2 linked regions of the Homo sapiens genome follow. The protein of the gene in region 2 interacts with the protein of the main gene of each other region in a pairwise test. Each region holds a gene or a part of one and is shown on either strand. Other genes may lie near its edges. The genes, in order: WNK1 and MPHOSPH9.

Evidence for each region.
Region 1: the proteins of MPHOSPH9 (region 2) and WNK1 interact in a two-hybrid assay, tested with the Homo sapiens proteins (one large-scale study listed by IntAct).

What each region holds. Positions count from the first base shown.
Region 1 is NC_000012.12:898,946-902,756, reverse strand, and holds part of WNK1 (serine/threonine-protein kinase WNK1), read right to left. Parts: intron 2,282-3,811; coding exon 2,087-2,281; intron 1-2,086. UniProt on the Homo sapiens protein: Serine/threonine-protein kinase component of the WNK1-SPAK/OSR1 kinase cascade, which acts as a key regulator of blood pressure and regulatory volume increase by promoting ion influx.
Region 2 is NC_000012.12:123,230,242-123,234,745, forward strand, and holds the start of MPHOSPH9 (M-phase phosphoprotein 9), read right to left. Parts: upstream 2,901-4,504; 5' UTR 2,834-2,900; exon of another isoform or gene 2,673-2,833; intron 282-2,672; 5' UTR 124-281; coding exon 20-123; intron 1-19. UniProt on the Homo sapiens protein: Negatively regulates cilia formation by recruiting the CP110-CEP97 complex (a negative regulator of ciliogenesis) at the distal end of the mother centriole in ciliary cells.

The sequences.
Region 1 (3,811 bases), about 120 Mb from region 2:
GTTTCTCTGTACATGATCTTAGCTTGATTTGTACGATGGCCCTAGGACACTGGCATCATCTCCATTTCACATATGGGGAAGATGGGGTGACTTGCTATTGTGCCTTGTTTTTAAGTAGAAAGCTGCAAAATCCCAGAAATCATGTTAGAAGGAGAATTTTCACTTGCAGATGCTGGGCTTTGATCTTTATTAGACTAAGTGCTTTATCAGAATAACCAAACTAAAAACCGCTTTTGATTTTATGGGGTTAGAGGACAGTAGTGGTGGAATGATCCAATGAAGAGATCCTAGCATCTTTTCAACTGGTAGCTGCTTAGGCTTAATAGAGAAGAAAAATAAGATTTCAATCTACTCTGACAAAGAATGGAAAAAAATGGTACATAATTTTTACCTGCTGCCAGGATCTAAGAGCATCATTGGTCAAAATGCTTTCTTCATTTCGTTTCTTTTTTTTGAGATAGAGTCTCACTCTGTCGCTCAGGCTGGGGTGCAGTGGTGCAATCATGGCTCACTGCAGTCTCAACCTCCTGGTCTTAAGGTGGTAATCCTCCCGCCTCAGCCTCCTGGGCAGCTGGGACTATAGGTGCACACCACCATGCCAGGCTAACTTTTTTTTTTTTTTTAGAGATGGGGTATCACCATGTTGCCCAGGGTTGGTCTCGAGCTCCTGGCCTCAAGCAATCTTCCCGCCTCGGCCTCCCAAAGTGCTGGGATTACAGGTGTACGCCACCGTGTCTGGCTGATTTCTCTCATTTCTAATGCTAGGGCAGACAGACAGCACTGACTACGACTGTGGAGTTCAGTCTTCATTATTCTAAATGACCCAGCAATCTATTGCCTAGATACCATATCCACTCTCTGTCACAGATCCATGAAGAAGCACTTCTACCAGAAAGTTACATTGAAATTTGTAGATAACTTGTTATTTTGACATTTTTTATCATAATTAATGTGGGGGCCCAAACTTCTGAGGGTAACAGTAATTCAGCCAAGCCACTGAGTAGATGATATACAAAAAGAGACAAATGAAAATGGACTGCGTGAAACATCAGATCCAAGCAGCAGAAACACAAGGACAAGGAAGGAGTAAAGGTGTTACACACAAAGAGCCAAGCAGGGCGTACTCAGAAATCGGGTCCTCCTGCCACCAGGTTTGAATGTCACCTGTTCAGATGCACAGTTAAACTTCGCACAGCCTGTGAGAGGGGAAAAACAGGGTAGAACAGAGAGAGGAGAAGAGACAGAACACAACTACAAGATGTTAGAAACTTGAGGCTGGAGTGGTGAAATGCACTAAGATGGCACACAGAAGAACAAGCTTCTGGGGGGAAGGTCAGATATGTAAGAGATGAAATATTAGGTCTTAATTCTACCCATCTGCAAAATGCGGAAGCTTTTCTTAGTTCGAATAATGCTAGCTAGTTTGCCCTCCTTACCAATCAAGTGCATTCTTCCTGTGAAGAGACTGATCTCTAATTTCTGTGAAACTGTGGCAAAGGCACATAAGCCAGTACCTATATTTTTTTCATTCTTCTCACCCAGATGCCCAAGTCTTTTCAATTCTTGTTCTAATATGACTAAAAGCTCTTTCCTCTGTGGGAATTTTTTCAGCAATCACTAATAAACAGAGCTATATTTGGAAAGTAGATTATGGATAAAAAACTGAATTGTAAGGTTATTCATTTTAGTATGCCACTCCCATACTTAAAAGTAACAAAATTCTACAATGGCTAAGAAAATGTATTAGCTTCAGAAACTGCTAAAACACCTTAGAATTTCATCCAGGAAATCTCAGCCTAATATTAAAGCCTAAGTTCCAAATCCCAAATGAGCAAGTCATATAGGCCACACAGATGTAACTTTTCACTGTAATTCCTTGAAAAAAAGTAATTTCACCTAATGGGAGCAGTGAGCCCACCGATTCTCATTATCACTCCACTTCCCTTTTCACCCAGATTCTTCAGTGTACAACACACAGGCTGTGTTCTGGTCAGCTAGTCTCCCAACCCGCCTTAACAGGCTTTTGTCCCAGGTATGGCAACATCTCCATTTTATTGTTTTTGGACGATGATGGTTGCTTTATTACCTTGACCTGGAGCAGAAAGGCTTGGTACTGAAATGGCACCATCACTGGTGAAGGCTGAATAGAGGTTGTCACTGGAGGGAGATGGCTTAAGGGGCTGTAACAGCTGATTCTGCCCGGACTCTGGGATGTTGCCAGGAGGGTGGAGGGTCTGCTGGGGGTGCAAGACTGAAGCTGCACTCTGACCAGACAGGTTACCTGCCAAAAGATAAAGTGGCATGAGGAAACATGTCCAGCTCTTCCCATGCACTCATCAGGCACTGTTCTTATACATTTGGTTTGTTCCACTGAGTGATGAATGATGGGTCAAAAGCTACAAACTGATGAGAAGAACAAAGTCCTCACTAACGGGAGAAGTGAGGAATGACACTAAGACTCAATAGATAGGCTGGGTGTTGTGGCTCACGCCTATAATATCCCAGCACTTTGGGAGGCCAAGGTGGGCGGATCACCTGAGGTCAGGAGTTCGAGACCAGCCTGGCCAACATGATGAAACCCTGTCTCTACTAAAAATATAAAAATTAGCCAGGCGTGGTGGAGGGTGCCTATAATCCCAGCTACTCAGGAGGCTGAGGAAGGAGAATTGCTTGAACCCAGAGGCAGAGGCTGCAGTGAGCCGACATCATGCCACTGCACTCAAAAAAAAAAAAAAAAAAAGAAAAGAATCCATAGGTAATAGGGCCATATGTACTATTCCAGAGCTTTTTAGCTTTAGAAAACCTAGATGGGCCACATGTCTGAGCAGCGTAAGAAGACCAGAGTACCTAGTGGATACCCAGATTCCATTCTGCAATTCCATGATTGCTTTTTTTTTTACCCTATTAGAAAATGTGTTGAATCATTATACAAAAAGGTTTGCTAGGCAGTCTCTGCTTAGACTTTCCTATAAACGTGCATCAGAGCAAATACAAAAGAGGTGTTCAAAAATGATGGAGGTCACTACAGAGCAATGGGTGTTTAAAATTATTTTTGGTAGGTTGCTTTCAATAGGTCGGTTGTCCTAAAATTGACTCTCTGCTCCCCGGTTCCCAGTTGAATTCAAGTCCACTCAAAAAGTATGTCAAAATTAGGATTAGAATTTGATTAGGATCATAGCTGGGCATAGTGGCTCATGCCTGTAATCCGCACTTTGGGAGGCTGAGGCGGGCGGATCACCTGAGGCCAGAAGTTTCAGACCAGTCTGGCCAACATAGTGCAACTAAAAATACAAAAATACAAAAATTAGCCAGGTGTTCTTATACATTTGGTTTGGGATTACATGCTTGTAATCCCAGCTACTTGGGAGGCTGGGGCATGAGAATTGCTTGAACCTGGGAGTTGGAGGTTGAGCCACTGCCGACTCTGCCTCAAAAAAACAAAAACAAAAACAAAAAAGATCTGATTGGGATCAGATCAGAAATTAGCTGATTTCTCTTACAATCACATCTCTACTAATGGGCTGCATGAACTGGCCCTAATGTGCTACATTTGGATATCTGTGAACCTTTCCAGAGAATGGAACTGCTAAGAAGTTTGCAACTGCTTTTTAACATATTTTAACCTTCTTTTACTTTTCAACTAATTGTGTTAACACTACCATAATTTCACCAAAGGATTAGAAACTCTCTATCTATCCCAATTAAAATATAGTCCAGGGCCGGGCACGGTGGCTCACGCCTGTAATCCCAGCACTTTGGGAGGCCAAGGTGGGTGGATCACCTGAGCCAGGAGTTTGAGACCAGCCTGGCC
Region 2 (4,504 bases):
TTTTAAATCCCATTCTTACCTATCAGTATTTAAGTTCAGTCCAAGAGAATGAAGAGAATTTTCATCAGATCCTACAGAAGATGAAGTTTTGTGTAAGGTTTTCACCAAGTCAAACTCTTCCATAGTGTACAGAAATTGTTATATTCTCTTATTGGAAAATAAAGGTTCTTGGGCTGTTTGAGAAAAATGAATCCGTGTCATCTTCAGAGGCTTCATCATCTACTGGCATTTTCAGTGGCTAACATTCAGAACTGTGAAATATCCTAAACTTCCAAGAGAGTCTGAAAATGAATGGGGGAAAAAAATACTACTATAAAAAGCCACCAAAGCTAGCAACTGTTTTTACATAACTTTGGAAACCTTAACTGCTTTCATACAGATCTCCATTAAGGATAGCAACAGTATTCATAATAATCAAAATGTAGAAACCACCCAAATGTCCATCAATGGATAAATGGATAAACGAATGAAGCATATTCATAGAACAGGATAGGATTCAGCCATAAAAAGACACATGCTACAACATACATGAACACTGAAGATACTATGCTAAGTAAAAAAAGCCAGTCACAAAAGACCACAGACTATATGATTTCATTGATATGAAATATCTTGAATGGGCAAATTCATAGACAAATGGCTGCCAGGAGCTGGGGAAGGAGAGAATGTGAGTGAGTGCAGCTGGTATGGAGTTTCTTTTTGGGGTGATAAAAAATTCTGGAATTAGATAGTGGTGATGGCTGCACAACCTTGTGAACTAAAAACCACTGAATTGTACACTTGTAAAAGACTGAATTTTATGGTATGTGAATTATGTATCTCAATTAAAAATCTACATTAAGGATTATTTGCAAAAGTAGCATCACCTTTTTCAGGTAATATTTCAGATTTTTATATGTTTAATAATCAAGGTTCTTTTTTTTAGAGACAGCATCTTGCTATGTTGCCCAGGCTGGTCTACAACTCCTGGCCTCAAGTGCTCAGCCTCCCGAGCAGCTGGGATTATAGCGCAAACCATTTTGCCAGGCTTTACAATGAAAGTTCTAGATATAATTCTATTATGTAACAATTGGAATACTTGCATGCCTTGTTCATTTGTTTAATAAATTCTACCAAGTATATATGTTTGTTGACTTATACAGAGACAAGAAGAACTGAACTACTTAATATTTAATTTGTATTAAAAAGAGCCAATTAAACTGTTAACAACCATAGCTTCCCCATTGTCTGGAAGTACATTTTGAACTATATATATGGTCTTTTGTCTCTGTGCAGCTATTCTTAGAAAATAAACCACTGGGCACACTGGAGCCTGCCTGCAGCTACTGGGAGCATGTCCCAGCTACTCTGGAGGCTGAGGTGGGAGGATCACTTCAGCCCAGGAGTTCAAGACTGCAGTGAGCTATGATCCTGCCACTGCACTCCAGCTTGGGCAACAGACCAAGACCCCATCTCTTAAAAAATAAAAATAAAAATAAAAAAATTATTTGCCAGGCCAACTAAAATTTCAGTGAAGCTGGATATATACCATGGCAAATTGGCTGTAACAGGTCAAACAAGATGCCTCCTTCCTGGGGAATTCATGCACTTATAAAAGAGCAAGGGAGCAAGAGGAAAAAGGAGAAAGAAAGAAAACTTCAGCTGCTTACAAACTGAAAAGCTTAGAGAGTGCAACAGGAATATTATCTAGTATTCCGCTTCTGCTAGATTCCCACTTTCTAGGGCCTGCTTTTATAAAGCATTACACAAAAACAGGGACCATTTCCTTCAGGGACAGGAGTGAATGCAAAGGGTAACCGGACCTAACTAAATGGACTTTTCCCCAGTGGCTCAGCCCATCACCCACGACAAATGGGGCATTGAAACAGTCAAGGACTGCCCCTTCCAACTGGCAACAGAAATACCTGGATTCCAATCACCATGCTATTACACCAGGAAAACACAAGCTCTCCAGGGAGATGAACCTGCAACCCCATCTATTATTTCCCCTGCTAAGGTAATCCGGATCCGGATGCAGATCCAGATGGAAAACCACTAGAAATTCAAAGATGCTTCTCCATTTGGGGTGGAGGTGCTGGGGGGAGGGCAGGGAAGTAAGAGGGAAAAATCCTTAAACACCCACAAATACAATGCAAAAAAAAATTTTTTTAACTTGATACAGAATGAATATAAGAGCAGAGCTTTTATATTTCCCAGCAACAAGATATGACGCTTTTGGTGTCCCTACCCCCTAGCAAAAAAAGGGAGCTGGGGAAAAGGAACGATTGATGGTTATGAAACATGAAAGTTAACTGGGCGCTCCGCCTTGACGGGAGGCTTGGGGGAGAGGAAGAGATTTCAGATGGGGATGAGGCCAGATCCCGACATTCTGAGCTCACAGTCAGCCCGCAATGGCTGGTGGCGGCTATCGGGTCAAAGTGGGAAGGAGAGGGAGAATCTATGCAGTCGCCTAAGCTACGGAAAGCAGGGAGGACGGAGAAAAGCCACCGCTCCTGCAACTACAACCGCGATTCCAAAAGGAAACCGGGGCACCTTGGCAAAAAATGGGGGGAAAAATTAAAAAAACCCCACAAACCCCCCGCCCCTCAGGAAGAGCGATCTGCGATTGGGCCGCGCGAGTGTCACTCAAGGGCGCCGAGTCTAGAAAAGGCGCACCGCGGCCGGGCAGAGCTCCCACACGCCGAAGGGCTCCGAGGGGGTCAGGCCAATCGGCAGCCGTCACCCCACACCCCAGCCCATCACCACACTCAAGGGGCCGCTAAGACAGTGTCTCCTAAGTCTCGTCTCCTGTCCCCAGCGGCCTACAGCTCCCTGCAGGCTGGTGGCCGCTTACCTGGCCGCCGCTCCCGCTGCCGATGTCAGGGTCATGCAAGCGGCCTCTCGCGACCGTTACCCGAGGGAGCGCGCGCGCGCCCGGCGTCTCTCCAGTGATTGGCTGCCCGGAAGGAGGCGGAGACAGCCTCGCATGGCGCGCGCGTCCACCTCGCCGTTCCCCCTCGCGCAGCTCCAACCAAAGAGAGACATCCAACCCCGGGGGAGTGACAAGGGGGCGGGATTGCTGTGAAACTCTCTTCTCTGATTGGCTCTCTGGGAGCCAGCCGCTGCCACGAGGGAAAGAAGCTTCAGTTTCTCGCATGCGCAGTGAGTAAACATGAGCCTCTGGTAGATAAGAGAAACCGCGATCGGAGTACGGCGCGTGCGCAGATCAGGGATCGCGATTGCGAATCCTCCGCTGAGGTGATTTGGATATCCCTAGAACGTTGAGGGCACGAGTCGGGTCCTGAGACCAGGTAAGCATCTGCGGAGAAGCCAGGTAACCCTACGGCTGCCGACGACTGTCAAAGGCTCCGGAGAGAGGACTGCGAGCCGGGACGCCTGGGTTTTTCCCGACTTGCGACCCCGAGTGGCGCAGCCAGTTTACCTGAGGCCGCGCTGGCGGTGGGGTGGGGCCGGCCGTGACACCCGAGCTCAGTTTTCTCGGGACCTGGTTTACGCTAGGTGCTGTGGGTCGGCCCTGGGGCTGTTCAGGCACTCAGGGCAGGGGAGAGGAGAGACTACCGTCCTGGAGATAACGGTTCCACGGAGGCCCAAGGCGAAACGGAAGGATCCTCATGTACAAAACTGAGCGGAATGGAGCTGTGAGCACGCATCAGGTGCTGTTTCAGGCCTGGCACGTAGTAGAGGTCAGCACTGCCCTTGCTAGGCTTTTGCGGAGATACTCGTTTTTTTTTTAATAGACGTGGGGTGGGGGGGTCTCACTGTGTTGCCCAAGCTGATCTCGAACTCCTGGCCTCAAGCGATCCTCCTTCCTCGGCCTCCCAAAGTGCTGGGATCACAGGCGCAAGCCACCCAGCCCTACTTTTGAAGGACCAAAGGGAACTCGCTCTCCTCCCCGTGGGACCCCAGCCCATTTCATGCGCACTGTGCAGGCCACATTCTTCAGCATAGTTAACCTTTAAGGTCTTTCCAGCTACTCGATTTACCTCCAGGAGTTCTGGCTCACAGTAAAGGGACTTCCCTGGCACTATCACTTAGGCCTCCACAACCCAGGAAATGGATCTGCCCTTGGAATAACAGATCTGCCAGGAGGCGTTACATCTCATTGGAGCTTCCTAAGTATACCTACCAATTTTTTTTTACTTTTTTTATTTTTGTGGGGGAGGGGGGTAGGGGGGACAAGGTCTCTCTCTGTCACCCAGGCTGGAGGGCAGTGGCGCGATCTCGGCTCACTTTAACCTCTGCCTCCCGGGTTCAAGTGATTCTTCTGCTTCAGCCTCCCGAGTAGCCGGGAATACCGGTGCCCGCCACCACATCCGGCTAATTTTTTGTATTTTTAGTAGAGACGGGGTTTTGCCATATTGGCCAGGCTGGTCTCGAATTCCTGACCTCAGGTCATCCTCCTGCCTCGGCCACCCAAAGTGCTGGGATTACAGGCATGAGCCACCACGCCTGGCAATTTTCAAAGGGTAAATTTGATGTTATCCTATCTTTCATGATTTTTTAA